Linked DNA regions of Homo sapiens. The protein of the gene in region 3 purifies or fractionates together with the protein of the main gene of each other region. This does not show direct contact. Each region holds a gene or a part of one and is shown on either strand. Other genes may lie near its edges.

Evidence for each region.
Region 1: the proteins of ANPEP (region 3) and XPOT purify together in Homo sapiens (affinity purification with mass spectrometry, with the first as the bait; one large-scale study listed by BioGRID). This does not show direct contact.
Region 2: the proteins of ANPEP (region 3) and DSC3 purify together in Homo sapiens (affinity purification with mass spectrometry, with the first as the bait; one large-scale study listed by BioGRID). This does not show direct contact.
Region 4: the proteins of ANPEP (region 3) and ZYG11B purify together in Homo sapiens (affinity purification with mass spectrometry, with the first as the bait; one large-scale study listed by BioGRID). This does not show direct contact.
Region 5: the proteins of ANPEP (region 3) and PPARA purify together in Homo sapiens (co-immunoprecipitation; one large-scale study listed by IntAct). This does not show direct contact.
Region 6: the proteins of ANPEP (region 3) and PFKP purify together in Homo sapiens (affinity purification with mass spectrometry, with the first as the bait; one large-scale study listed by BioGRID). This does not show direct contact.
Region 7: the proteins of ANPEP (region 3) and SEPHS1 fractionate together in Homo sapiens (co-fractionation; one large-scale study listed by BioGRID). This does not show direct contact.

The regions. Positions count from the first base shown.
Region 1 is NC_000012.12:64,431,680-64,435,788, forward strand, and holds part of XPOT (exportin-T), read left to right. Parts: coding exon 1-144; intron 145-1,734; coding exon 1,735-1,924; intron 1,925-2,827; coding exon 2,828-2,944; intron 2,945-3,114; coding exon 3,115-3,230; intron 3,231-3,947; coding exon 3,948-3,995; intron 3,996-4,109. UniProt on the Homo sapiens protein: Mediates the nuclear export of aminoacylated tRNAs. In the nucleus binds to tRNA and to the GTPase Ran in its active GTP-bound form. Docking of this trimeric complex to the nuclear pore complex (NPC) is mediated through binding to nucleoporins.
Region 2 is NC_000018.10:31,035,771-31,039,879, reverse strand, and holds part of DSC3 (desmocollin-3 isoform Dsc3a preproprotein), read left to right. Parts: intron 1-4,109. UniProt on the Homo sapiens protein: A component of desmosome cell-cell junctions which are required for positive regulation of cellular adhesion. Required for cell-cell adhesion in the epidermis, as a result required for the maintenance of the dermal cohesion and the dermal barrier function.
Region 3 is NC_000015.10:89,790,470-89,794,578, forward strand, and holds part of ANPEP (aminopeptidase N precursor), read right to left. Parts: intron 2,658-4,109; coding exon 2,566-2,657; intron 2,094-2,565; coding exon 1,983-2,093; intron 1,859-1,982; coding exon 1,691-1,858; intron 625-1,690; coding exon 484-624; intron 73-483; coding exon 1-72. UniProt on the Homo sapiens protein: Broad specificity aminopeptidase which plays a role in the final digestion of peptides generated from hydrolysis of proteins by gastric and pancreatic proteases.
Region 4 is NC_000001.11:52,764,021-52,768,129, reverse strand, and holds part of ZYG11B (protein zyg-11 homolog B), read right to left. Parts: intron 1-4,109. UniProt on the Homo sapiens protein: Serves as substrate adapter subunit in the E3 ubiquitin ligase complex ZYG11B-CUL2-Elongin BC. Acts to target substrates bearing N-terminal degrons for proteasomal degradation with the first four residues of substrates being the key recognition elements.
Region 5 is NC_000022.11:46,219,774-46,223,882, forward strand, and holds part of PPARA (peroxisome proliferator-activated receptor alpha), read left to right. Parts: intron 1-38; coding exon 39-241; intron 242-4,109. UniProt on the Homo sapiens protein: Ligand-activated transcription factor. Key regulator of lipid metabolism. Activated by the endogenous ligand 1-palmitoyl-2-oleoyl-sn-glycerol-3-phosphocholine (16:0/18:1-GPC). Activated by oleylethanolamide, a naturally occurring lipid that regulates satiety.
Region 6 is NC_000010.11:3,101,439-3,105,547, reverse strand, and holds part of PFKP (ATP-dependent 6-phosphofructokinase, platelet type), read right to left. Parts: coding exon 3,994-4,109; intron 1,770-3,993; coding exon 1,604-1,769; intron 940-1,603; exon of another isoform or gene 434-939; coding exon 389-433; intron 156-388; coding exon 47-155; intron 1-46. UniProt on the Homo sapiens protein: Catalyzes the phosphorylation of D-fructose 6-phosphate to fructose 1,6-bisphosphate by ATP, the first committing step of glycolysis.
Region 7 is NC_000010.11:13,341,185-13,345,293, forward strand, and holds part of SEPHS1 (selenide, water dikinase 1), read right to left. Parts: intron 3,845-4,109; 5' UTR 3,767-3,844; coding exon 3,574-3,766; intron 1-3,573. UniProt on the Homo sapiens protein: Synthesizes selenophosphate from selenide and ATP.

The DNA.
Region 1 (4,109 bases), on a different chromosome or scaffold from region 3:
TTCCTTCATCGAATGATTATTTGCCTGGAGGAAGAAGTTCTTCCGTTCATTCCATCTGCTTCAGAACATATGCTCAAAGATTGTGAAGCAAAAGATCTCCAGGAGTTCATTCCTCTTATCAACCAGATTACGGCCAAATTCAAGGTACCGCAAACTTTCAGAGCTCTGAAAATCTCTTGAAGATCAGATGTATTTATCTTCAGACATGTTTCGGATTTTGCCCTTGGGTTTCTTTTTTTTTGCTTTTAATGAATTACTTAAGAGCCTCATGGATCATATGTATTTTTATCATCTGTGGTGTCTGGCACACTGCCTGATACATAGGTCATGCTTAATAGATGTTTGAATATAAACAGACCCTAACCGCTTTGTGTAGCAAAAGAAAACTAGTCTGCTGTTTTAGAAGAGCATATAAAACCAGTAAACTGAGTACTAAATAAGCACCATAATTCAGGTACCCAAGCAAGAGTTAAAAGTAATTCAATGTATTAAAGTCAGTTTTCTGTAGGACATTTAAGCTGGCTAATAAAAGTGGTTAATACTTACATAGTACCTCTTTTTTCCTTTTTTCTTTTTTTTTTAAATGGAGATAGTCTCACTCTGTCACATAGGCTGGAGTGCAGTGGCGCGGTCACAACTCACTGCAACCTCCACCTCCCAGGTTCAAGCGATTCTTGTGCCTCAGCCTCCTGAGTAGCTGGAACTATAGGTGCATGCACCACACCACGCTAATATTTTGTACTTTTAGTAGAGACAGCGTTTCCCCATGTTGACCAGGCTAATCTCGAACTCCTGACCTCAAGTGATCCTCCTGCCTCGGCCTCCATAAGTGCTAGGATTACAGGCATAAACCTGGCCACTTACATAGTACTTTCTATGTTCAAAATCTGTTCTAAGCATTTTTTGTACATTTACTCATTTGATCTTCATACCTACCCTAGAAGACAGGGATTATATGTTATAGTTGAGGAAACTGAGGCATGGAGAAGTGAAGGGATTTGCCCAAGAGTTCATAAAACTCAGGAGTTCATTTGTAAGCAAGTATTGAGAACATGCTATTAAACAATGTTTTTTACCTTTGTTCAAAAACAAGAAAAACCCTAAGAGTTTAATCATATAATTCATTTTTTGAGAATTTAATTTTGAAAATATTCCATGGCAATATTGTGAAATATGTCTGACTATTATTTTAACCTAAATCTTAAGCTGTAGGAAAGGGTTTAAATTTAATGATCTTGAGTCTTTTAGTAATATTTTTTAAGGTTTTTTCCCCACCTTGAAATGGAGTCTTGCTGTGTTGCCCAGGCTGGAGTGCAGTGGTATGATCTTGACTCACTGCAACCTCCACCTCTCAGGTTCAAGCAGTTCCCCTGCGTCAGCCTCCTGAGTAGCTTGGACTGGGACTACAGGCGTGCGCCACTACACCCAGCTAATTTTTGTATTTTTAGTAGAGATGGGGTTTCACCATGTTGGGCAGACTGGCCTTGAACTCCTGACCTCAGGTGACTCACCCGCCTTAGCCTCCCAAAGTGCTGGGATTACAGGTGTGAGCCACTGCGTCTGGCCTAGTAATGTTTAGGTTATATAGATTTTATCTTAAAATTGATATTTGCTAACTGAATTATGTACGCATGCATCCTAAATAGAAAAGAAAGGCTTTATGTAAAATAGTTTTTTCTAAGTTGTATGTTAATATTGTTACTAATTTCTGAAGTAATGATTGTTTATCTTCAGATACAGGTATCCCCGTTTTTACAACAGATGTTCATGCCCCTGCTTCATGCAATTTTTGAAGTGCTGCTCCGGCCAGCAGAAGAAAATGACCAGTCTGCTGCTTTAGAGAAGCAGATGTTGCGGAGGAGTTACTTTGCTTTCCTGCAAACAGTCACAGGCAGTGGGATGAGCGAAGTTATAGCAAATCAAGGTGGGAACACATGCCATATCTAATTTGTCTGCTTAAGTCTGTGTCACTGTTGTACATCTATATGACCAAGAGCAAACTGAAGTAAATACAGAAATTTTGAAGTTTGCTATCCCATGGGAAGACAGTTTATTGTTTTCAGGGTGGGAATTGATCACTTTTATGTAAAGCACCTAAAATTAATTTGTATTCTGTTCCTTTTTCTTTCTGCAATATTTTTTTAATTTGGTTCTTTAGCAATATAAATAACATGGTTACTTACCAGAATTGACCTGACAATTGAGTCTTTATGGCAAATTTGCCATTTTGAAATATAAAATAAATGGAGCTGTACAGATTTGTGTAGAGAATTCTGTATAGGAAATTTAGGGAACAAGATACCAGGGGCAAACTGATTTTTCATTGTTTTATTTTTTAATTTGATTTGATTTGTGAGATAGGGTCTCACTCTCTTGCCCAGGCTGTAGTGCAGTGGTGTCATCACGACTCATTGCAACCTCCACCTCCTGGGCTATCCTCCCATCTCTACCTCCTGAGTAGCCAGGACCATTGGCAGTTGCCACAATGCTGGGCTTATTTTTTGTAGAGATGGGATCTCACCACGTTGCCCAGGCTGGTTAAACTCCTGGGCTCAAGCAATCTTCCTCGGCCTTACAAAGGGCTGGAATTACAGACAGGAGCCACCGCGCCCAGCTGATTTTTCAGTGTTTAATGTTTAAACTTTAGGTGCCCAGTTAATAAAAATCAAGGGATTTTGGCAATTCTGTAAATGCTTTTTTCCCCCTTCATTTTTCCCATTCCACCTGTAAATGATTTTTGACTTGTTAATGTATATGAAAAGAGAACTTCAGGTTGCTTTCCTAGTTAATTTTGGAAATTGCTTAAACTAAAGGTTTTTCTCCTCAGGTGCAGAGAATGTAGAAAGAGTGTTGGTTACTGTTATCCAAGGAGCAGTTGAATATCCAGATCCAATTGCACAGAAAACATGTTTTATCATCCTCTCAAAGTTGGTAGAACTCTGGGGTAAGATAATTTTATTTCTTAACCTTCATTTCCCAAACTCTTTCATAAAACTCTTAGACATAATGGAACATAGCCCTAACAGAGAGAGAAACTGGGAGTTGGTTTTCCCTGGTGATGAATTAATTGACTTACTTTTATATATAAGATGAAAATTTGAATTCTCTTGACAGGAGGTAAAGATGGACCAGTGGGATTTGCTGATTTTGTTTATAAGCACATTGTCCCCGCATGTTTCCTAGCACCTTTAAAACAAACCTTTGACCTGGCAGATGCACAAACAGTATTGGTAAGCACCTAGGAATCTTTGTTTACCTTGTGTAGCTCATATATTCCCAATTTCTTCTTTAATGCCAGGTTGATTATATTATGTTTCATTGATTTTTTTTTTAACTTAGTGATTTCAGATCAGGGTTCTTTTTTTAAAGATTTATGATACCTTCTGGAGTTTTTATGAATTCTTATTGAATCCCAATGCTACTGCTGAATTTTACAAATTCTACTCCTTCGACTTTAACACCTGACTTTTTCTAGGACCATGAAAGGGCATATGTCACAAACATTCTTTCAAGCTTGAGTATTAGTTTCCTACTACTACTTTAATTCTAAAACTTGTACCTAGTGGTTTTCCCTAATCATTAAGAGCATGAAATGGCAACTTGATCCTCCTTGTATGATAGTTTCCCCAAATCTAATTTTCACAATACTTAATGTCAATTTCCGCTTTCTCACTTTCCCACAACCTGGTAAAAGCTAGATTTCATAATTGTAATTTACTACGTTAAAACAACAGTTTGTATTTTTCTGTTTTTTTTCTTTTTTTACTTCAACCCACTTAGTCCATCTGCCTGTTACCTTTCCTTCCTCTATCCCTTCTCTGGAGTTAAATATTTCTCTGGAAATATTTATTTGAATTTCCCTGGCAGTGGCCAGGGTAGTAAAGAGAAGAGCTGGATCACTAAACAAGAATTGAATATATAGAAATTCTTAAACTTGTTTTTCACAGGCTTTATCTGAGTGTGCAGTGACACTGAAAACAATTCATCTCAAACGGGTAAGCCTTTTAGTCCATGCCCCTTCATTTTCATCTCACATGTGGTATTATTATCTTGTTCTTGAAAGATGTATCTTGTGTAAAATTTAACTTTTGTTTTGACTTTTTGGATGT
Region 2 (4,109 bases), on a different chromosome or scaffold from region 3:
AAGTCAAAATTATAGTATACGTATATTTAGATTGATGCATTATCAGCTACCTTATTAAAAGGAGATTGTTGATGTTCCTGTTGAGATACAGCTAGATACGGAAGCACGTTCTGAATAAATAAATGTAAGCTCATGCACATTTTTGGATCCTGTTGTAATTCCCATGGCAGTCCTGTACCATATATGGTATCTGTGGTGACCTGTAGTTAATCATACTTTCCGCTGAAAGTATGATAGCTGGAATTCCCATCTTACAATGAGTTTGGGTGGAAACAAATTTATTAGACTCATTTAAGTACTGAGAATGTAGAGCAGTAAATCTTGCAATTTACCTTTGAAGTGGTAAGAATTTGAAAGGTAATATTTCCATTCTGCAGAAGACTTATGGCCACAGGAGAAATGAAGAGTTTAAAATTCTGTAATTATTGTGTTTAATCCAGAAGATCCTCTTCACATTTAAGACATTCCATAAATTTCCATTCTTTTTCTTCTCTACTGAAGTAGGGTGTCATTTTAGAAAGCCTACTTTGTGTATTTACTATAAAATTAAACAACAGCATGAAAGTGAAACAACTGCAGATAACACCTTTAATTTTCGTTCTCTCTTTGGCATTAAATTTTTCCATCAGGATTTAATGATTCGTCTGATAAGGTTTCTATCATGCAATTAATACAATTTGCTTAGTACTATAAAATGCAACAAAACTATTTTGCTTAGGCTGCAGTAGGTAATACTTTATATTATCATCTTTAAAGTTTGTTATATTTTAATTTAAAATATGGGCATTCTTGTATACAGAAGTTATTTTTATTATAAAATATCTTTAAAGGTCATTAGTTCATCATTAATATACTAGTGTCTTTACATTTTTTACTTTATTTTGTTTTCAATAAGGCATCCAAACCTCACAAAAACATAATATCAAATGACTTCATAGTTTCAAGAAACATACTATAACTGAAGTCTATTGAATATTATCCCTTTCAAAAGTTGTATTAATGAATTAACTGTACATTCTTTCTAATAATATCCTATGCAGCAAAGAAAATGAATGAGCTACTGCTATATAGTTAGGAACTTTGAAAATATTAGTAATGTTCCATTTCTTAACCTTGAACGTGAATACCCTAATGTTCATTTTATTATTTATTAAAACACACACATGCTATATGTAATCTTTGGTATTTATAATATATTTTATGAAGAACATTTTTTAAAAAGGAAAGAAATGAGCAATAGAGGGTATCAACTAAACTAAACCTCTTGAGTATAGACAAACCCTACTCTGAGCAAGTCAAAAATAGAAAAGGCATACATAAAACAATATTAGGAATGAAAAGGAAGTATAGTTTTGGAGAGAACAGATGTTAAAAAGTAAAATAACATGAATAGATAATTCCAATTAACTTGAAAATACAGACAAAACAGACAACTTCTTACAAAATACACATAACCAACATTGACTTGAGGAGGTATACAAAATCTAAATAGACCTGTAACCATTAAATAAATTGAATTAGAAGTTAGAGAGCTCCACACACACTTCTTTAGATCCACCAGGCCCAGGTTTGTGATAAGTTATTTCTTTCAGAATTATATGGAACAATGTACTTTATGTAAATTGTTTCAAAGAACAAAAAAATACAGAACTCTTCTTAACTCATTTTATGAGGATCGTATGAAGTTGAAAAATAGTAGCCTGATCTCACTTACAGACAAATATGTGAAATGAGATAAATTGAAAACAAACCAATATATTTGTAAGATATAAATATTTTATGTTCTTGTAAGGCTTATCAGGAAAGGAAACATGGGTTCACATAAGAACATCTATTATTGTATTTTAACATAGTATCAACAGAGAAAATGTATCAACAGAGAAAAACTGATTATTTCAAGAAAGTGGAAACATTTCATTTCAAAAGAATTCATAGAATTCATAGCACACTAAGAATGTAGAGAATGAACTTTTTTTTTTTTTGAGATGGAGTTTTGCTCTGTTCCCCAGGCTGGAGTGCAGGCTGGAGGTTGGCTCACTGCAACCTCCGCCTCCCAGATTCAAGTGATTCTCCTGCCTCAGCTTCCTGAGTAGCTGGGATTACAGGCTTGTGCCACCACAGCCGGCTAATTTTTGTATTTTTAGTAGAGACGAGGTTTCACCATGTTGGTCCGGCATGTCTCGAACTCCTGACCTCATGATCCGCCTGCCTCGGCCTCCCAGAGTGCTGGGATTACAGGCATGAGCCACTGCGCCTGGCCAAGAATGAACTTTCTTAATGTAATGAAACATATCTAACAAAAATGAATGAATGAATGAATGTTACAAGGAAAAAAGAAAAAGACTCATAATTAATGGCAAAACTGTAAAAATATTCTCTTTAAGTTAGAAACAAATCCATAATGGTCAGTACAGGTGTTTCTGTTCAGCATTCCAGAAGAGGTCCTAACAAGCATATCAGATAAAAATTAGCAATAATGAAAGACTTGTAGGATTAAAAGAAAAGAAACCTAGTTGTCATTTTGCCAGCGACAGGATTAACTACATAGAAAATCCAACACTATCTATTAACAGATACTAGAACTAATAAAAGTAAGCAAGTTTCATGGATATAAGCTTAATATTTTTAAATGATTTCTATATATTATCAAGGGACAACTCAAAAATATGTTAAGAAGAATCCCATTCATTACAGCAACAAATCAATGTATCTAAGATAAATGTAACAAAAAATGTGAAAGACCTTTTTAGCAAAAATTGCAAAGCTTTATTGAAAAACAAACATAATTCGGCCGAGTGCGGTGGCTCACGCCTGTAATCCCAGCACTTTGGGAGGCTGAGGCAGACAGATCACGAGGTCAGGAGTTCAAGACCAGCCTGTCCAACATGGTGAAACCCCATCTCTACTAAAAATACAAAAATTAGCTGGGGGTGGTGGCAGGCGCCTGTAATCCCAGCTACTCAGGAGGCTGAGGCAGGAGAATTGCTTGAACCTAGGAGGCAGATGTTTCAGTGAGCTGAGATCGCACCACTGCACTCCAGCCTGGGCCACAGAGCAAGATTCCATCTCAAAAAAAAAAAAGGAAGAAAGAAAGCAAAAAGGAAATATAATTCATAAGTAAGTGAGAATGAATCATGTTCATGGATGGAAAGTCTCAAGAGCCCTAAATGTCAAATCCTCTTTAAATTAATATTTAAAGGAAATGGAATTTCATCAACATCCTAAAATAAATTTTTACAGAACTTGGGGAACTGATCATAAAATTGTTTTGAGAGTCAAAGTCTAAAAAGAGCAAAAATACTACTTTAAAAAAAAAGATTGAGCAATGGGGAACTTTGAGGTTTTTGAGTATCTGGTATACAGAAAATTTTAATAAAGATGTGTCAAATGAAAAAAACAAAATTGAAGCACTCTGTTTATCAGAAGATTTCATAATAAAAGTTAAAAAGCAAACTAAGTAAACCTACAAGAAAAAAATTTAACAAGCACAAACAATAGATAAGTGATTAAAGGAGGAAGAATAGATGATTTACAGAAGATAAATGGCAAATAAACACAAGAAAATACAGTCAATCTCACAACAAATAAATAAAATGCAAATTAAAACAGCCATTAGGTTGGCAACATGGAAAAAGTCATAAAATTATTTGTAAGGGAGGATATGGGAAATAGAGAGATTTAATATGCTAGGGGCATTAATAGAAATTGATATTAGTACTTTGTAGAGCAACTTGGCAATAGCTAATAAAATTGAAGTTGTTCATGTATGGCACAGTAATTTCCGCTTTAGGCACAGCTGTTCATATAGTGTCATTTGTAATAGAAGAAATGAAAAGCAATCTAAATAACCATCAATAGGAGAATGACTAAAAATAAACTGTGGTACATTTATGGAAAAATCTCAAACATACTGTTGGATGAAAAAAGCAAACTGCAAAAGGATGCATATAAACAGATACTACCCAAAACCAGCTTATATTTTATGGGCACAAGCATATACTATATAATGAAAGTATAAAATCCTACTGAGGAAGTATAAATTCTAACTTCTGAAAACTCTATTCCCTGGAGAAGAGTTGGAAATATAATAGAGCATAAGACTTTAGCTA
Region 3 (4,109 bases):
TCATACTCGGTGGAGAATCGTCGTGTCACTGCCTGGATGAGGTTGGAGAAGGAGAACGAGCCACCACCATAACTGCAGGGAGGGAGAGAGGTGAACTGTGAGGGAGGCCGGGAACTAAGGAGGCTCATCCTCACACCTACTGGGTAGGGAGCCATGATTATAGAGGAGATGAAATGACACGCCCTGGGAGACCCCACTAGGATGTGGGGGAGTCACAGCTTGAACACAGGTCTGACTGCCGAGTTCCTCACTCCCCTCTCTTCTGGAGAATACGCCCACACGCCACGTTTTCCTTCCAAATGGGAAAAGGGACGGCCCATACCCCAGCTTGTCTTTCCATTCCTGCCCCACCCTAGCCCCCAGGCTTGGCTGATTTTTGTCCACTTCTGGTTAGTGCCCCCGGCGTGTCTTACCCGCACAGGCCACCCCCCGGGGCCCCAGCCTCGGCGCTCGCTGTCCCTGACACCCATTCCACAGACTCACTCGTTAAAAAGCTTCTTCCAGTTGCTCTGGACAAAGTCCCAGACCAGACCTTGCCCAATGACGTTGTTGGTAATGCTGATGATGGTAGAGGTGGCGTCCTGCTTCCGGATTAAGTCCGGGTTCAGGGTGTAGCTCAGGTACCTAAGAGGGCCAGATGCTGTCTCAGCTACTGCTAATTCAGGTGACTCAGGAGAGAACTTGGACTGTCCCACGCACATCACCTATGCCTGCATCCTCTCAACATCCCCTCGGCCTGCCAGGGGCTGAGGGACCCCTTGGTCCTTCTTCCCTCTATAGATGGAAAACTGAGTCACCTAAGCAGGGTCACAGGGTCACTGGCTAAGCTAGTGTCATGCCTGACATAGAAATATTTGACAATGAATCAATGAAGGAAGGAGTCCTAGCGCCCCAAGCCCTGGCACCAGGTGGGTGGTCACTCCCGTCTTTGACACTGAGGGTGGCCCTTCTTTTCTTTTCTTTTCTTTTCTCTTTTCTTTTCTTTCGAGACGGAGTCTCACTCTGTCGCCCAGGCTGGAGTGCAGTGGAGCGATTTGGGCTTACTGTAACCTTCGCCTGCCAGGTTCAAGTGATTCTCCTGCCTCAGCCTCCCGGGTAGCTGGGATTACAGGCATGTGCCACCATGCCTATTTTTTTTTTTTTTTTGTATTTTTAGTATTTTTAGTAGAGACGGGGTTTCTCCATGTTGGCCAGGCTGGTCTCGAACTCCTGACCTCAGGTGATCCATCCACCTCAGTCTTCCAAAGTGCTGGGATTACAGGTATGAGCCACCACACCCTGCCCAAGGGTGGCTCTTCTTTACTGCATCCAGGTAATGGCATATGAGGCACATGGTGGGAGGTGGGGACCCTCATCCAAGGGCTTGAGGGGGTGCCCAGCTGGATGTTTGAAAAGACCCAGGTCCAGCTACACCAGAGCCTTTGACAGAAGGGAAGACGAGTTGTTGTCAGGTAAAGGCTAAGAGGCCACAGCAGCTAGGAACAGAGGACATGGACCCAGACCTGAGTCCATATCTTGTCTCTATCACTTATTAAAGCTTCCAGTCTGCACCGGTTACTTTGGAAATACTGCCTCCACCTCAACAGGTCTGTGGGGGTCACGTGAAGGATCTGGCGAGGAGTGTGGAGGCCTGCCTGGTTCTCCAGGTGGGGAGAGGGCTCTCGCAGTCCCACCCTGCGCCAAGACTCACCTGTTCAGGATCCACAACTCTTTGCTGCAGGCCAGGGCTGCCCGGAGCTTGTCAGCCTCATTGACCAGTGTGGCATTTCGGAACTGCTCCCAGGCGAAGTCCCACTCCTCCTCCCCGCCCTGGGCGATAGCGTTGCAGTAGACGGTGGACCGCAGGTTGGGGTGGATCCTGGTGTGGGGTAGGGAGGTCAGGTGTGGAACAGCAGCGGGGAGGGTGGGACAGGGTTCTGCTGAGGACGGGGCTGTTGGGGGCAGATGAAGACTGGCAGAGGAGGCGCAGGGGAGACACTCACGGGTTATTATTGGGGTTCTCCATCCACTGCTTGAAAAGGCCAGAGACCATCTCCTCACACTCTGGAACTCCGTTGGAGCAGGCGGTGCTGATGGCATTAACCTCGCTGTACCTGCCCCAGGGGTGACACGCGGTTAGCACACCTGGCGAACTCCAGCCAAGATTCACCTCTTGACACACAACCCCAGGCCGGCACCCTGCCTAAGGCTCTGTGGCCTAACTGGCCCTCTGACCCCCGCTGTATGTGCTTTGTGCCTTGGGCCTGAGGTTCCTTGGTCCCCAAAGCAGCCCTGTGACCCAGAAGGGCAGGAACAGGCTCCAGCCCCAGTTTCAACACCTAGAAACTGTATAACCTCAAGCCAGTGGGGTGAGCTAGAGTTTCAGTTTGGGTCTTTGTATAAAGAGGTCCGATGGGCCCTCAGGCCACATGGAGCCTCAGGGCAGGACCTCCCTGCTCCTGGGTGGGGGTCTCTCCCTGCCTGGTGCCCCCGCATTGAGAGCTGCGGCAGAGAACACTGCCAGGATGTTGCTCTTGACTCCCCGGGGTGCCCAGGACTTCCAAACCCATGAGAGCTCCCACTCACTGGTCCATCAGGTTTTCTGGGATCTCCCTCCAGTTGTTGGTATTATTTCTGAAGTGAATGAAGAGGGGTGTGACCTGCTTCTTCAGGTAGTTCTGGGGAAAAGAAAATATGAATCTCATCAAAGACTCATGCCTGACCTGCCTGGAGCCCCACAGAGCCTCTGATGTTGGGGGGCAGGCGCTGGCAGAGACGTCAGAGGTCAGGGCCTCACCTGAGGCCAAACAGTGCTCAAAGGGGCCCATAGAAGTCTAGAGTTCAAATAACTGAGCTGAGTTTCTTTCTGCTTAAAGCCTTAGTCAGTTGCAATATTCTTTGTCTACGGGTCACCATTTCTTAATATAAAATGTTGGGTTTTCCCTACACAATCATAAATATTCCATGAGTTGCTGGGCGCAGTGGCTCACACTTGTAATTCCAGCATTTTGAGAGGCTGAGGCGGGTGGATCCCCTGAGTCCAGGAGTTCGAGATCAGCCTGGGCAACATGGTGAAACCACGTCTCTACTAAAACCACAAAAAAATTAGCCGAGTGTGGTGGTGCACACCTGTATTCCCAGCTACTTGGGAGGCTGAGGCAGGAGAATCGCTTAAACCCGGGAGGCAGAGGTTACAGTGAGCTGTGATCACGCCACTGCACTCCAGCCTGGGTAACAGAGCGAGACTCCATCTCAAAAAAAAAAAAAAAAAAAAATTCCATGACTTATTGTAGGGAATTTGGGAAACACAGAGAAGTATATGCAGAAAATAAAACACACCCAGGAGCTCACCAAAACTACAGTTTCCACATTGATGCATTTACACCTTCTTTTTTCTATAGTTTTTTCTTTTTTACTTAGCATATTCTTCACATGGCATTTTTCTCCTAACATTGTAGTGTAAGCCCCACCCCATGCTAGTAAAATCCTTTGTGGACTCTGGTTTGACATGGCAGGTTGATTTCTGTGCCCACCTGGATCCACGTCCAAATGTAAAAGGAATAAACCCCCAATAACAAAGAACAGGAGAGGCAACAGCGGATGCAAGGTCAATATAGTTTAGGCAGCTGGGACGCGCAGAAAGGGAGATGTACCAGGCTTGGCAGAGTGGGAGAATTTGCAATTGAGAATCTGCAGAAGGGGAGACAGAAGCAAGGGAACTTGCTGTGACAAGACTCAGAATTAAAGGGACAAGGCCAGGTATGGGGGCACATGCCTGTAATCCCAGCACTTTGGGAGGCTGAGGCGGGCGGATCACCTGAGGTCAGGAGTTTGAGACCAGCCTGGCCAACGTGGTGAAACCCCGAAGCTACTAAAAATACAAAAATTAGCCAGGCATGGTGGCAGGCGCCTGTAATCCCAGCTACTCAGGAGGCTGAGGCAGGAGAATCGCTTGAATCTGGGAGGTGGAGGTTGAAGTGAGCCAAGATCGGGCCACTGCGCTCCAGCCTGGGTGACAGAGTGGGATTCTGTCTCAAAAATAAATAAATAAATAAAAATAAATAAAAAAATTAAAGGGACAAGTCAGCAAGGGACAGAGGGGAGGTAAGGACTGCAAACAGGAAGATGAA
Region 4 (4,109 bases), on a different chromosome or scaffold from region 3:
TTCAGCCAAACACGACAGAAAAAACTGCAGCTCCACCCATGCCAGCAAATGCCAATAGGGGCCTAGATTTCTACCCCTGCCAGGCTGTAATTACTTGCCCCAATCTGCCCACAGGGGAGGTGTTAGAGAAGTCTGAGTAGAGAGCAAGGACTTTCATTCCTGCTGGGTAGTAAGAACTATCCCCCACCACGATGTTAGTAGATACCTTCTGGGGAGCCTGAACTTCAACACTCATCAAGCAGCGATGAAGTTCTCTACCTGCTTCCCTGCTGGGGTGCTGTCATAGGAAGTCTAGTGGAAAGTCAGGACTTTCACAACTGCCCAACAGTAATGAGGCCACCTCCTCCCAACATGGTGTCAGTAGAAGCCAACTGGGAAGCAGAAATGACATACCCATACCCCTCTCATTTAGGGAAGTATCAATAGAATCCTAGTGGGGAGTCAGAATTCCAACCTCTGCATAGCCCTGCACCTTGGGTGTCAAGAGAAGCCAAGTGGGGAACCAGAAAGAACATTAACCCTAATCTGGCTGGGCATAGTGGCTCACACCTGTAATCCCAGCACTTTGGGAGGCCGAGGCGGATGGATCACAAGGTCAGGAGATCGAGACCATCTTGGCCAACATGGTGAAACCCCGTCTCTACTAAAACACAAAAAATTAGCCAGGCCTGATGGTGCCTGCCTGTAATCTCAGCTACTTGGGAGGCTGAAGCAGGGGAATCGCTTGATCCCAGGCGACGGAGGTTGCAGTGAGTTGAGATCGCACCATTGCACTCCGGCTTGGGCAACAAGAGCGAAACTCCACCTCAAATATAACATAACATAAAATAAAATAACAACATAACATAAAATAAAATAACAAAATAAAATAACATAAAATAACAACATAAAATAAAATAACAAAATAAAATAACATAAAATAACAAAATAAAATAAAATAACATAACGTAACAAAATAACATAACATAAAATAAAATAACAAAACAACATAAAATAACAAAATAAAATAAAATAACAACATAAAACATAACAAAATAATATAACATAAAATAACATAAAAAATAAAAATAACATAAAATAAAATAACATAAAATAAATAAAATAAAATAATTTTTTTTTTTTTGAGACGGAGTCTCGCTTTTCACCCAGGCTGGAGTGCAGTGGCGCGATCTGGGCTCACTGCAAGCTCTACCTCCCGGGTTCACACCATTCTCCCGCCTCAGCCTCTGGAGTAGCTGGGACTACAGGCACACGCTGCCATGCCCAGCTAATTTTTTGTATTTTTAGTAGAGACGGGGTTTCACCGTGTTAGCCAGGATGGTCTTGATCTCCTGACCTCGTGATCCGCCCGCCTCGGCCTCCCAAAGTGCTGGGATTACAGGCGTGAGCCACTGTGCCTGGCCTATAAAAATTTTTACAAAGAACATTAACCCCAATCTGGCAGTAACAAGGCAGTGCTCCTACCTTCCACTGCTGGAGTGACGTCAGTGACTCAAACTAAAACAGAAAAGTCTCATATCACCTAAAATGTCCTGGTTTCAATAAAAAATTACTCTGAATCATACTAAGAACCAGTAAGACTTCAAACTCAAAAAGAGATAATCAATATATGCCAACAGTAAGGTAACAGAAATGTTAAAATTATTTGACAACGATTTTAAAGGAGCCATAAAAAAATGCAATTAAATTTTCAAAAGTAAACAAATATGCTTGAAAAAAAATGAGTAACAGACCAGGCGCGGTGGCACTTTGGGAGGCCAAGGCAGGCAGATCATGAGGTCAGGAGTTCGCGACCAGCCTGACCAACATGACGAAACCCCATCTCTACTAAAAATACAAAAATTAGCTGGGCATGGTGGCACACGCCTGTAGTCCCAGCTACCCAGGAGGTTGAGACAGAAGAATCACTTGAACCTGGGAGACAGGGGTTGCAGTGAGCCAAGATCGCACCACTGCACTCCAGCCTGGGCGACACAGCAAGATTCTCCATCTCAAAAAAAAAAAAAAAATTTAAAAAAAATTTAATAAGGAAAAAAAGAAAAAAATGAAAACAGACTCAGCAAGGCAAGAGAAGATATAAAGAAGAATCAAATAAAAATTTTAGAAGTGAAAAATATAATAATGCTTGAGGTCAACAGTAAAATAGAGAACAGAGAAAAAAGACTGGTGAACTAGAAGATAAAACAACATAAATTACCTAATTTAAATAACAAGAACAGAATGGGAAAAAAACCAAAACCAAAAACCTAAAGCTATATTTGTGTCACTGGAATATCTCAAGGACAGGAGAAAGACAGTGTGGCTGAAAAAGTACTTAAAGAAATAATGAGCAGGCACAGTGGCTCATGCTTATAATCCCAGTACTTTGGGAGGATGAGACAAGAGGATTACCCGAGGCCAGGAGTTTGAGACCAGCCTGGGCAACATTGCAAGACTCCATCCCAACAACAAAAAATTTTAATTAGTCGGGCATGGTGGTACATACCTGTAGTCCTAGCTAGCTAGTCGGGAGGCTGAGGTCGAAGGGTCGCTTGAGCCCAGGAGTTTGAGATTATAGTAAGCTATGATTGCACTCTAGCTTGGGTGACAGAGTAAGACCCTGACTGGGAAAAAACAAAAAACAAAAAACAAAAAACTGAGTGTGGTGGCTCATTCCTGTAATTGGGAGGCTGAGGTGGGAGGACTGCTTTGAGCCCAGGGGTTCAAGACCAGCCTGCACAACATAGAAAGACATCATCTCCATTACAAATTTTTAAAAATTAGTCAGATGTTGGTGGCATGCACCTGTGATCTCAGCTACTTAGGAGGCTGAGGCAGGAGGACTGCTTGAGTCCAGGAGTTCAAGGCTGCAGTGAGCTATGATCATGCCACTACACTCCAGCCTGGGAAACAGAATCAGACCTTGTCTCAAAAAATAATTTTTTTTAATTAAAAAAAAAGATAGGCTGGATGTGGTGGCTCACGCCTATAATCCTAGCACTTTGGGAGGCCAAGGCAGGAGGACTCCTTGAGGCCAGGGGTTCAAGACCAACCTGGCCAACATAGTGCGACTCCATCTCTATTAAAAAAAAAAAAAAGATCACTCAGAAAAATTGGAAGCAGTGGTTTACATGGAGTTAAGGGAATTTTATCTGATGGCTTCAATTTTCTTCCTAAGATAAATGGTAGAAAGTCTGAGAAGAGCAAAGAACATCTGAAACTACTGTTAGGAACACTAGTTTACTGGGGAAATACTCCAGAACTCCTGGGCAGTGCCGAGGAGCCCGCCTTTATGTTACTGACTTCCCTCCTTGTCATTCAGGTCTCAGTCTAGTATCACCACTTTAGAAGCTTTCTCTGATCATCCAAGTTAAAACATCTCCCTTCCTTTATTATTCTTCTTAAGAGAACAGTGTTCTTTTTCCCTCAGAGAACCTGGCACAAGCTGTAATTCTATATGTTTACTTCCTAATTGTGTCTCCCACTGGACTATACGCTCCATGAAAGCAAGATTCATGTTGCATTCATTGTCTTATTTAAATATTCACAGTAATCCCTGTGAGGGAGTTATAATTATCAACACTTTACAGATGAGGAATCTTAGACTTGCAGAGTAACTTATCCAGGGTCAAAGAGCAAATTAATGTTGGAACCAGGACTCAGACCTAGGACCGATTTATAGAACTCATGCTCTTTTCTTATTTTAAAAAAATCTTGGCTGGGTGTGGTAAATTACACCTATAATCCCAGCACTTTGGGAGGCCAAGGCAGGTGGATCACCTGAGGTCAGGAGTTTGAGACCAGCCTGGTCAACATGGCGAAACCCTATCTCTACTAAAAATACAAAAAAAAAAAAAAAATTAGCCAGGCATGGTGGTGCATGCCTGTGATCCCAGCTACTCAGGGGGCTGAGGCAGGAGAATCACTTGAACCTGGGAGGCGGAGGTTGCAGTGAGCCGAGATAGTGCCATTGCACTCCAGTCTGGCAACAGAGCAAGACTCCATCTCAAAAATAAAATAAAATAAAATAAAATAAAGAATCAACATGCTCTAAATGATAACTCAAGGGCTTCTTTCAAGGAGTAAAATACAGATGCATAAATACAAGGATTGTGCCCCAAAGCATTTTT
Region 5 (4,109 bases), on a different chromosome or scaffold from region 3:
TCACTGCTCATGCCTGTGTTTCCCCCTCCAAACCCTAGCGATTCGTTTTGGACGAATGCCAAGATCTGAGAAAGCAAAACTGAAAGCAGAAATTCTTACCTGTGAACATGACATAGAAGATTCTGAAACTGCAGATCTCAAATCTCTGGCCAAGAGAATCTACGAGGCCTACTTGAAGAACTTCAACATGAACAAGGTCAAAGCCCGGGTCATCCTCTCAGGAAAGGCCAGTAACAATCCAGTAGGTGTTTGCGGCTGTTCTGGGTTCTCTTGGCAACATGGAACCAGTGTCGTAGAGGACGATTAAGGACACATGTGTTGAATGTTGAGAAAATTATATTTATCCCACAGTTAAGCAAAGGACAGCGAAGATGGAAACAGTTCATTCTGAGACTCTGAGCTGTAGCTTAACAACAACTCCTTTCTTCTTGCTTGGAGCCACCTCAAAGCTCTTAGCAACTAAGTTATTATACTGGCTATGTAATTAATACACTTAAAAAAAACCTTAATAGCTTACCAAGTACTAAGATGATTTCTTAGGAGCATTTTTTCTTAAATAGAGATAGGTTCTTGCTCTGTTGCCCAGGCTGGAATGCAGTGGTGCAATCATAGTTCACTGCAGCCTTGAACTCCTGGGCTCAAGCAATCCTCCTGCCTCAGCCTCCCAAGGAGCTGGGACTACAGGTGTGCACCACCACACCTGGCTATGTTTGATGTTGTTGTTGTTTTGTTTTGTTTTTGTTTTTTGGTAGAGATGAGATGTTTCCCAGGCTGGTCTCAAACTCCTGGCCTCAAGTGATCTTCCCACCTCGGCCTCCCAAAGCACTGGCATTACAGGTGTGAGTCATGGCACCCAGCATTAACTGGATTTAAAAAAAAAAAAACTGACCAGGCAAGATGGGTCATGCCTGTAATCCTGGCACTCTGGGGAGGCCAAGGTGGGCAGATTGCTTGAGTCCAGGAGTTTGATACCAGCCTGGCCAACATGGAGAAACCCCAACTCTACTAAAGATACAAAAATTAGCTGAGCAGGGTGGCACACACCTGTAATTCCAGCTACTTGGGTGGCTTAGGCATGAGAATTGCTTCAACCCGGGAGGCAGAGGTTACAGCAAGCTGAGATCATGCCACTGCACTCCAGCCTGGGTGACAGATCGAGACCCTATCTCAAAAAAAAAATAGAATAATAAAATAAATCCCTACTTTGAGGTGTATTAGTCTGCTATAAAGAAATCCCTGAGACCTGGTAATTTATAAAGAAAAGAGGTTTAATTGGCTCGTGGCCCACAAGGCTGTACAGGAAGCTTCTGCTTCTGGGGAGGCCTCAGGGAATTTGACTCATAGCAGAAGGTGAAGTGGGAGTAGGCGTCTTGCATGGCAGGAGCAAAAACAAGAGACACACACTTTTCACCCATCAGATCTTGTGAGAACGCTATCACTAGAGTAGCACCAAGAGGATGGTGCTAAACCATTCATGAAGGATCACCCCCATGATCCAGTCCCTCCCGCCAGGCCTCACCTCCACCACTGGGGATTACAGTTCACCATGAGATTTGGGTGGGGACACAGAGCCAAACCATATCATAAGGCTAGAAAAGGAAACCACTTACTTCCCACTCAAAATGTGCTCTTGGTCCTTTCTCCTAAAACTACTCCCTCCCTCTCAGACAAACATGCCTACATTCTTTTTCCGCCTTCAGTGAAAAGACAGTGACATCTTGGGGCTTAGAAAGGGCCACTTGTAAGCCAGGCGTGGTGGCTCACGCCTGTCATCCCAGCACTTTGGGAGGCCAAGACAGGCGGATCACGAGGTCAGGAGATCAAGACCATCCTGGCTAACATGGTGAAACACCATCTCCACTAAAAATACAAAAAATTAGCCGGGCGTGGTGGCGGGCGCCTGTAGTCTCAGCTACTTGGGAAGCTGAGGCAGGAGAATGGCGTGAACCCAGGAGGCAGAGCTTGCAGTGAGCCGAGATCGTGCCACTGCACTTCCAGCCTGGGCGACAAAGCCAGCTGTGTCTGGGCGCGGTGGCTCATGTCTGTAATCCCAGCACTTTGGGAGGCTGAGGTGGGTGGATCACTTGAGGTCAGGAGTTTGAGACCACCCTGGCCAACATGGTGAAACCCCATCTCTATTAAAAATACAAAAAATTAGCTGGGCATGGTAGCGGTTGCCTGTAATCCCAGCTACTTGGGAGGCTGAGGCAGGAGAATTGCTTGAACCTGGGAGCTGGAGGTTGCAGTGAGCTGAGATCGCACCACTGCACTCCAGCTTGGGCAACAGAGTGAGACTCTGTCTCAAAAAAAAAAAGAAAGGAAAAGAAAGGACCACTTGTTATAGAAAGCCTGTCTTTTAAGGTAGCTCTGGACCTTTTCAGAGGCAGCCAAATTGCCCCTCATGGTTCGTCCCCCACATCCCCGCCTGCCTGGCCTAAGTCCTCCTTCCCCCTCCCCAACAGTTAAATAAGTCTTTGTCTCCATTACAAAACAAATCTCAGAGCTACCTTCAAAGAAGAGCCAGCCCTCAGTTGGTGAATGAAGATACTTTGACATTTTCCTATGAGCATGGTGAAACAGGTTTAATTTGTATTAAATAGCTTGAAGCAATCCTTATTGGGAATTACAAGGTGGAATTTTAGTCACAGGAAAATAAAGCATTTCACAAGCTACTTACTTTCATGAACAAACCAAACCTCTTCTTTACTGAGTCCTTTAATTCTTCAGTGAATTCTCCAATTAAATAGGCCGAGACATTTTAGAAGTTTCCAGCAGACACCCACACTAGGCAGCTCCAGAGGCTTGTCCCAATTAGAACTTTCCTGGATTACGAGAGTGAAAGAAAAGGTAACTTTTAGCTTCGAGTCTCTATCCTGGATATGATTAGTACAGCCCAAAATTGGGATGGCTAAAACTTTTGTTTGCCAGCTTATATTTCTCCCTTGGATTTCAGAATTGAAAGCAGGCTGGGCACAGTGGCTCACACTGTAATCCCAGCACTTTGGGAGGCTGAGGCGGGAGGATCACTTGAGGCAATCCAAGAGTTTGAGACCAGGCAACACAAGGAGACCTCGTCTCTACAAAAAATGATTTTTTAAAAAACTAGCTGGGCATGGTGGCATGTGCCTGTGGTCCCAGGTACTTGGGAAGCTGAGATGGGAGGATGGCTTGAGCCCAGGAGTTCAAAACCAACCTGGGCAACATGGCAAGACCACATCTCTACAAAAAATAAAAACATTATCCAGGCATGGTGGCACATGCCTATAGTCCCCGCGACTTGGGAGGTTGAGGAGGATGCCTTGAGGCCAGGAGTTCAAGGCTGCAGCGAGCCACGATCGCGCCACTGCACTCCAGCCTAGGCGACAAAGCGAGACTCTCTAAAAAAAATTCGAAGCAGAGTTAAGTTGTCTTTCTTCCTAACAACCTGCCCCCACCATGGGGTGCGAATGGGACTCCTGGAGTCCTCCTGCACCTCCCCTTGGAGACCACCAAGCTCTAGGAACCCCATCACCCTCAGCTGAGGGTCACATGCAGCAACTAGCAGGCGGGAATCTGTTTGCATTTTGGCCTTAAAGAAATAAATAATAGGCCAGGCGCGGTGGCTCATGCCTGTAATCCCAGCACTTTGGGAGGCTGAGGCAGGTGGATCACCTGAGGTCAGGAGTTGGAGACCAGCCTGACCAATATGGTGAAACCCCGTCTCTACTAAAAATACAAAAATTAGCTAGGCATGGTCGTGGGCACCTGTAATCCCAACTACCCAGGAGGCTGAGGCAGGAGAATTGCTTGAACCTGGAAGGCAGAGGTTGCAGTGAGCCGAGATCACACCACTGCACTCCAGCCTGGGTGACAGAGCGAGACTCCATCTCAAAAAAAAAAAAAAAAGAGGGCCAGGCGTGGTTGCTCATGCTTATGCCTGTAATCCCAGCACTGTGGGAGGCAGAGGAGGGCGGATTACCTGAGCTCAGGAGTTCGAGACCAGCCTGGGCAACATGGTAAAACCCCATCTCTACTAAAATACAAAAAATTAGCCGGGCATGGCAGTGTGCGCCTGTAGTCCCATCTATTCGGGAGGCTGAGGCAGGAGAATGGCGTGAACCTGGGAGGTG
Region 6 (4,109 bases), on a different chromosome or scaffold from region 3:
TGCAGCCAGCATCGCCCGCTATCAACGGCCACGGGACCCGCATTACCTCCGAGAGTTTGACACACATCTGCTCCTCCCAGCCTTCCTCTGGTGGAGATTCTGGAAGGAACACCCAGTCCGCACCGCAGGCCAAGGCACTCACCAGGGCCAGGTACCTATGTGGACAAGGCAACAGCATCAACACCCCAGAAGGATCCTTCCCACGAGGGCAGCCCAGGCACCCCGCTCAGCGACAGACGTGCAGACCTAACGCCAGGTATGAAGCGGGATGCCGGCCCCTTCAGGACTTTCCACGGGAGCATTCAGGATGTGGGGTGCAGCCTCAGGGAGATGATGCTGAGGGTCCCCCACCTGAACCGCGTCCACCGGACCCACCGCAGGTACGTACCCACAGTGTCGTCCCATCACCTCCAGAACGAAGGTCCTCTGGTGGCTGGAAGAGAAACAGAGGGAGCCCCGGACACAGCTCAGAAAGCAGAGAAACAGAGGGAGCACCCACTCAGTCCTGGAAACAGCTCAGAAAGCAGAGAAAAGGGGCTTTGACAGCCGAGTTAGCCAGGAGGCCTGCAGGGACCTAGGCTTCAAAAATGGTCCATTTTCTACTAAGGCAAACGCTATGCAGTAGCCTTCCAGACTCCTGCGAGGAAGGGGACTTGAGCCACCTCTGCGCTCTCCAGTTGCACGTTGGACACCTTCTGCCTGCCTGTGCCAGGACACACTCACACTCCCCGGCCCCGTGCTGGGCTCTTTCCCAGATACCTTCTCTATTGGGCACAGTCGGCAGCTGCTGTCGACAGCCACGGCTGGATCTCTCCCACGGAAACAAGTGAGTGCCAGACTCACTAAGTGCTTAATGCCCAGAGACTGTGGGTCTTCCCAGGGAATGGAAAAATCCAACTGCTCCGAGCAGCCTTCCAACTCGGTGATTTTCCACCAACTGTGGGGTTCACGCCCACGCACTGAGAATGTCCAGTGAGGCGTCACTGGGAACAGGACACGCACACAGAGGACTGGGAGGCGCCATGCTGGGGACTGGATTCGGGCACTCTCCCAGTCTCGAGCACCTCGTCCTTAAAGGGGAGACACTTATTCTATTTACCATTCCACATGGTTTTCATGCAAATTGCTTCAGAAATTGTACGGTGCGCCCCACAGTCTTTAGTGATAACCTGCTGAGCCTAGAGCACCTCGGATCAAACGCTGTGGCCCCCACGACACTTCGTGAATCCGTAGGTTACACAGGGCAGGACATCGCTGGCTGCGTTTCTAATGAGTAGTGTGGAAAATCCACACAACAGTTTCCTGCTTGCCACTCCTTCTGGAGATGTTTGGGTAGGACATTTAGAGGATAATTACTTTGTTTCTTCCTTCCAAATTCTAATAAACTGTTTTCTATCATCAGGTTAAAAACAAGGAATGTTTTAAAATTAAAAATGAAAAGTAGACCAGAGAACAATGTTCTGGCAATAGCTCCTAAAAGTCAAGTTACGAGACCAGCACCAGGACACCCAATCTGCAGAATGTTCTAGAGCCCGTGGTAACGTCTGAGCTGGGCACACGTCGGGCCCCACTGGCCTCCCGCCGGTTCCTCTGAGCGCTTTACCTCTGGGCCGTGGTCATGATGGCGTCGACGACCTCGATGATCCTGTGCAGGGCGGAGTCCGTGCCGATGGTCATGTCGGTGCCGCAGAAATCATTGTCGATGGAGCCCACCATGCCCACCACGTTGAGGTAGGCGTACTTCTGCACGGCCTCCTTATCGATCTGGCCTGCGCGGGGAGCAAACAGCACGTCTCATCGCCGTAACCATGGCGCGTTCGGGGGGTGCCCCACTAGGGGTGAGGCAGAATGGCCATGGGTAGAGAAATCAACCATTCTAAACTCTTTGTTATTGGTATCATTTCTTTATTATCATTTTTCTGAGACAGGGTCTCACTGTTGACCAGGCTGGAGTGCAGTGGCACCATCATAGCCCACTGCAGCCTTGAACTCCTGGGCTCAGGCGATCCTTCTGCCTCAGTCTCCTGAGAAGCTAGAACTATGCCTGGCTGATTTCTTAATTTTTTTTGTAGACCCACACTCTATGTTGCCCAGGCGGGTCTTAAATTCCTGGGCTCAAGTGGTCCTTCTGCCTTGGCCTTCCAAAGTGCTGGGATTATAGGTGTGAGCCACTGCCCTGGCCGATTCTTTATTTTCTCCGAACTCAAGGCAACCGGATTCTGCATAGTTAAGGAAAGAGAAGCCAGACAAAGCTGGCAGCAGTTACACACAATGGACTCTGTCACCTGGCACTTAGACAAGAGCAGTGGATTAGAAAAATAAAAGAAAGGATCCACATTTGCAATCGGTAAACAAACATCTCAGTACTTCCTGGCAACAGCTTCAGAGAATGACACGGCTTTGAACAGGATACGTTACAATTACGGAATTAAGAATCTAAGACACTAGGCCATCTTCACACTGATTTCTCATGCATCTGTGGGAAGCTGGATCGTGGGTGAGCATCTGCCTCGCACTCAGGACAGACCTGGGCTGGGCAGTTCTGCATAAAGGGAATCGGAACCACTGAAGGGCCAGGGGCAAGCTTGGGCCCGGACTTGTGGCCACTGTCCCGGTCTGTGCACTCACTGTGCTGTGCCAGACGGGATGAGGTGGACAAGCGGGAACCGTGAGGCCTGGCTGCTTCCAACGGGCAGCCTTCTCCATCCCCTACGAGGATGTTCACAAACCTGGGGACAGCTGCTTTGCCTCAATGCCGCCTCTCATCGAGTTGCTGTTAAACAATATGCTTCCCTGGTCATATTTAATATTGCACTGAAATTACATAACCGCTTCAAGGGAGAAAAACTACACTTTGGGAGGCCGAAGCGGGTGGATGACCTGAGGTCAGGAGTTCGAGACCAGCCTGGCCAACATGGCGAAACCCTATCTCTACTAAAAATAAAAAATAAATAAAAAAATTTTAAAAAAGCTGGGTGTGGTGGCGCATGCCTGTAATCCCAGCTGCTTGGGAGGCTGAGGCAGGAGAATTGCTTGAACCCAGGAGGCAGATGTTGCAGTGAGCCGAGATCGTGCCACTGCACTCCAGCCTGGGCAATGGAGAAAGACTCTGTCTCAAAACAAACAAAATCAAACAATCAAACAAAACAAAAATAAACCACATACACACAGGGCTCTCAGAAACGCTTTCCTAAGTAGTGCCAAAGTTGGTACTGGATGATGTATTGGCAGAGATTTATCGTCTAAATAAATTAAAGTCCTGTGGCAACTTCAGTTTTTTTTTTTTTTTTTTTTTTTGAGACAGAGTCTCGCTCTGTCGCCCAGGCTGGAGTGCAGTGGCGGGACCTCGGCTCACTGCAAGCTCCGCCTCCCGGGTTCACGCCATTCTCCTGCCTCAGCCTCCCAAGTAGCTGGGACTACAGGCGCCCGCCACTACGCCCGGCTAATTTTTTGTATTTTTAGTAGAGACGGGGTTTCACCGTTTTAGCCGGGATGGTCTCGATCTCCTGACCTCGTGATCCGCCCGCCTCGGCCTCCCAAAGTGCTGGGATTACAGGCGTGAGCCACCGCGCCCGGCCCAACTTCAGTTTTAAAGGACCCCAGCGAGCTGGAGGGACACAGTGTGAGGGCTGAAAGGCGGATGCTAGTGTCCCAGGCTGCTGGGGACCCGGCTCGCCCCACGGCTGAGTGGCCGTTTGATTCCTCATCTGTAAATGGGATGATCTAAAACCTGGCTTAGATGGCTGTCGTGAGGATTCCATAAAGCTATCTGTGTGAAAGGTCGAAGGGTGCCTGGCACATGGTAAGGTTAAATTACTAGCATTCTTACGATCATTGCTGTTGTTTTTTGAGATCCTAAAAAGTCCTGAGATGGTGACCTGTAAGATCTGTGAGAAGAGGTACTTCTGCCACAGTGAAGAGGGAAACCTGTCGGTTCCAAAGCTCTGAAACAGGGCGAAAACCCGCAGGACAGAGGAGCAGGTGTCCACTCACCGTTCCTGGCCAGCTCCTCCAGCAGCCCACTCCACTCCTTCCGGAAGAGGTTGGCCCCGGTGAGGCTCCCGTCCCCGCCGATCACACACAGGTTGGTGATGCCGCGCTGCAGCAGG
Region 7 (4,109 bases), on a different chromosome or scaffold from region 3:
AGAGAAGGGGTGAGCCTGAGATGCCCACAGGCCTTGAAAAACTAGCGTTTGAAATGGAAAGACAGAGGGACGGTCCAGAGGGATGGTAACTGGGAACAGAGGAAAATGCCACAGGGTCGGGGAAGCCTTAAATACTAGACAGAACAGTTTAGGTTTAATGACCAGGAGGCAATGGGCAAACTTGCTGGAAGGTTTTCAGCAATACTGACATCCTCCATCAGAAAGACAACCTAAGTTATCACACCACTACCCACCCCCAACCCCTGCACCGCCCCCGCCAGCAGCAGCAATCATTACTTGATAGCTCCTAGGCACCAGGCAACAAATGTCTCTGGTTCTAAGGCACACTTCTTTTACCATTTCTTTAATTAGGATACATTTAGTAATCGTGTGTACATTTAAAAGCTGTTTTGGTTAACCCTTCAATTAACACCATTTTTGAAGCCAGAAAACATGACATTCAATTAGAAAAAAGTTAAAAACATAAACAGGCCGGGCGCGGGGGCTCATGCCTTTAATCCCAGCACTTTGGGAGGCCGAGGTGGGCAGATCACTTAGAGTCAGGAGTTCCAGACCAGCCTGACCAACATAGTGAAACCCTAACTCTATTAAAAATACAAAAAAATTAGCTGGGTGTGGTGGTGCACGTCTGTCATTCCAGCTACTTGGAGGGAGGCTGAGGCATGAGAATCAGGCCTGGGAGGGCCTTGAACCCGGGAGGCAGAGGTTGCAGTGAGCTGAGATTGCACCACTGTACTCAAGCCTGGGTGATGGAGTGAGACTCTATCTCAAGGAAAAAAAAAAAAAAAAGATGGCGGGGCGCGGTGTCTCACGCCTGTAATCCCAGCACTTTGGGAGGCCGAGGCAGGCGGATCACGAGGTCAGGAGATCGAGACCACTGTGAAACCCCGTCTCTACTAAAAATACAAAAAATTAGCCAGGCATGGTGGCGGGCGCCTGTAGTCCCAGCTACTCGGGAGGCTGAGGCAGGAGGATGGCGTGAACCTGGGAGGCGGAGCTTGCAATGAGCGGAGATCGCGCCACTGCACTCCAGCCTGGGCGACAGAGCGAGACTCCGTCTCAAAAAAAAAAAAAGTTAAAAAAATAAACATACAGCCGGGTGCGGTGGCTCACGCCTGTAATCCCAGCACTTTGGGAGGCTGAGGTGGGTGGATAACCTGAGCTCAGGAGCTTGAGACCAGCCTGGCCAACACCTTGAAACCCCGTCTCTACTAAAAACACAAAAAAATTTAGCTGGGTGTGGTGGCATGCGCCTGTAGTCCCAGCTACTTGGGAGGCAGAGGCAGGAGATCACTGCTTGAACCTGGGAAGCGGAGGTTGCAGTGAGCTGAGATTGTGCCACTGCACTCCAGCCTGGGCGACACAGTGAGACTTCATCTCAACAACAACAAAAAAAAGGTCAAAAACACCCATACATATATACCATATATACTTGTGTACAGAGGGTATACACATACATGTATTATATATGTAAGTACAGACATACATGGCACACCTACACACATTTTTGGTACAACAATGCAAAACAGTAATCTTTTTTTTTTTTTTGAGGCAGGGTCTCACTCTGTCTCCCAGGCCGCAGTACAGTGGTGTGACCTCAGCTCACTGTAGCCTCTGCCTCCCGGGCTCAAGGGATCCTCCCACCTCAGCCTCCCGAGTAGCTGAAACTACAGGTGTACACCAGCAAGCCCAGGTAACTTTTGTATTTTTAGTAGAGATGGGTTTCACCATTTTGCCCAGGCTGGTCTTGAACTCCTGACCTTGAGTGATCTGCCCATCTTGACCTCCCAAAGTGCTGGGATTACAGGTGTGAGCCACCGCACCCAACCCCAAACAGTAATTATTATTTTATAGATTAGGAAGCTGAGGCTCAGGAGGGCTGGGTGACATTCATGACATAATATGAGTGACTAGTAAGTAACTGTGCCAGAGGAAGTTATAAATAGTAATTCTTACTTTATGCCGTAATGTTTTAATTTCATTGGTTTTTGAGCATTAAGTATTAATAGCTTTTTTTCTTGACAGTTATCTAACAGCTTCCTCAGTATATTCTCATTTCTCGACAAATAAGCCAACATCAAACCCAGCTCGCTCACATGGTATTTCTCCACAGCTTGGCCATCAGCTGGACGGCAGGAACTGTTTTCAAACTGAGCTCCTCAAAGTCCTGCAGGTCACCAGCGACTGGGGTGTAACATTTCTTCCTTTCCAACAAAAGCAAGTCTGCTTTTATCTGCTTTCTCTATCTGGGAGTAAAGGAGACCCCAGGCTCATAACCAATGAACCTTACCAAATAATGGGCAAAAACAAATGAAATGAAAACCTTGGCTGGGTGTGGTGGCTTACACCTGTAATCCCAGCACTTTGGGAGGCTGAGGCAGGCAGATCACCTGAGGTCAGGAGTTCGAGAACAGCCTGGCCAACATGGTAAAACTCCCATCTCTACTAAAAATACAAAAATTAGCCGGGCATGTGGCAGGGGCCTATAATCCCAGCTACTCAAGAGGCTGAGGCAGAAGAATCGCATGAACCCAGGAGGCAGAGGTTGCAGTGAGCCAAGATCACGCCACTGCACTCCAGCCTGGGTGACAGAGTGAGAATCCATTTCAAAAAAAAAGGAAGAAAACTGATCAAGTCACACAGTAATTATCGAACATCCAAACCTCCGAAACTATGCGTCGAACACAAGAAAAGTGATCACAGTCTTGTACTGTGTACTTAATAAACTGCACAAGAAACATGAATAAACAATATCCCAGGAGCCCAGAATTTGTTTCTAAGCTCTGTGTTTGGGAAAAGTGAAATCACTCATGACATCAGGAATGTAGTAAAGAAAAAGACATTGCCCTGGTTCCAGATGACATCCTGGGGTCAAGAACAGATCCATCCAGTCCTGGGTCTGGAGCAGTCCCACCTCCTCACCGTAACACGCTTTTCGCCCGATGCACCCTGCAGAGAACCCCAATGCCCTCCTGACACAGTCACTGCCATCCAAGTACAGCACAAGAACCCTAAGGCTGGAACCGCCTTTCCTAGGGCAATGAAGGGAATGTGAGCATTTTAGGAGTCCTTTTAGGAAAAGGGAATAAAGTATTTCTGCTTAATCTTCAGCTAACAGAAAATTCAATTCAATTAAATTGAAAATAAAAATTAAAAAGTTTTTACTGTAATAACAATCTCAATTGCATACTCCATGATTTAAAAACTGTCAAGAGTACCCCTCTTGATGCGTTTCAAGTACTTTCTCTACATAAGTTACAAGAACATAACATAGCAATCATAACATTGATTGCTCTTCTAATCCTTCCCACAAAAATTAAAAAAAAATAAAGGGGGTACGATGTACACTATTTGGGTGATGGCTACACTAAAAGCCTAGTCTTCACCATTATGTAATATATTCATGTAACAAAACTGCATGTGTATTCCTCAAATCTATAAAAGCAAAAAAAGTAATAATAAAAAATAAATAGGCAACATGGGAGGCGAGAAATCCAGTTTTTGACTCACTGATTGGATCGCAGACCATCAAAGAAACACTGGGTTACCTACCAAGCCTTGGCATAACGGCTCCCAGAAACTGCTCATCTTCTTGGAAGTGGTTCTCCTGTAAAGATTCCAGCAATTTTTGCAGGACATCTTGGGGCACTTTGCAGCCTGTGCCCTTCAGTTCAGTGAATCTGGTTAGCCGGAAGCTTTTGTCCAATTCGTAACTTTCCGGGTTAAAGGACTCCCGCGTAGACATGGTTCTTGGGCCCCGCTCTCCTCACAGCTCAGCCCCTCCCCTCCCTCTGCGGGTTGGCTGGGTTCTTTATGGATCCACCTGGGTGTCACCAAAACACAAAGATGCCATGAAAAGAATTCCCACTGGGACCTGCCAGCGAATCAAGTGAATACATGACAGCGAAAAGTCAATGTGACAAGGGCTGAAATCATCAAGACCACTTATATTCACCACAGCAGTGCATATGACAAAATAGATCTTTTCATAACGGGACTGCGTCAGCACAGACATCTATGTAAAATCTGACATCTGGACTGTGGTTTTAACTGTGGCAAGAGGGCCAGCCTGCAGGTTCACATGACAC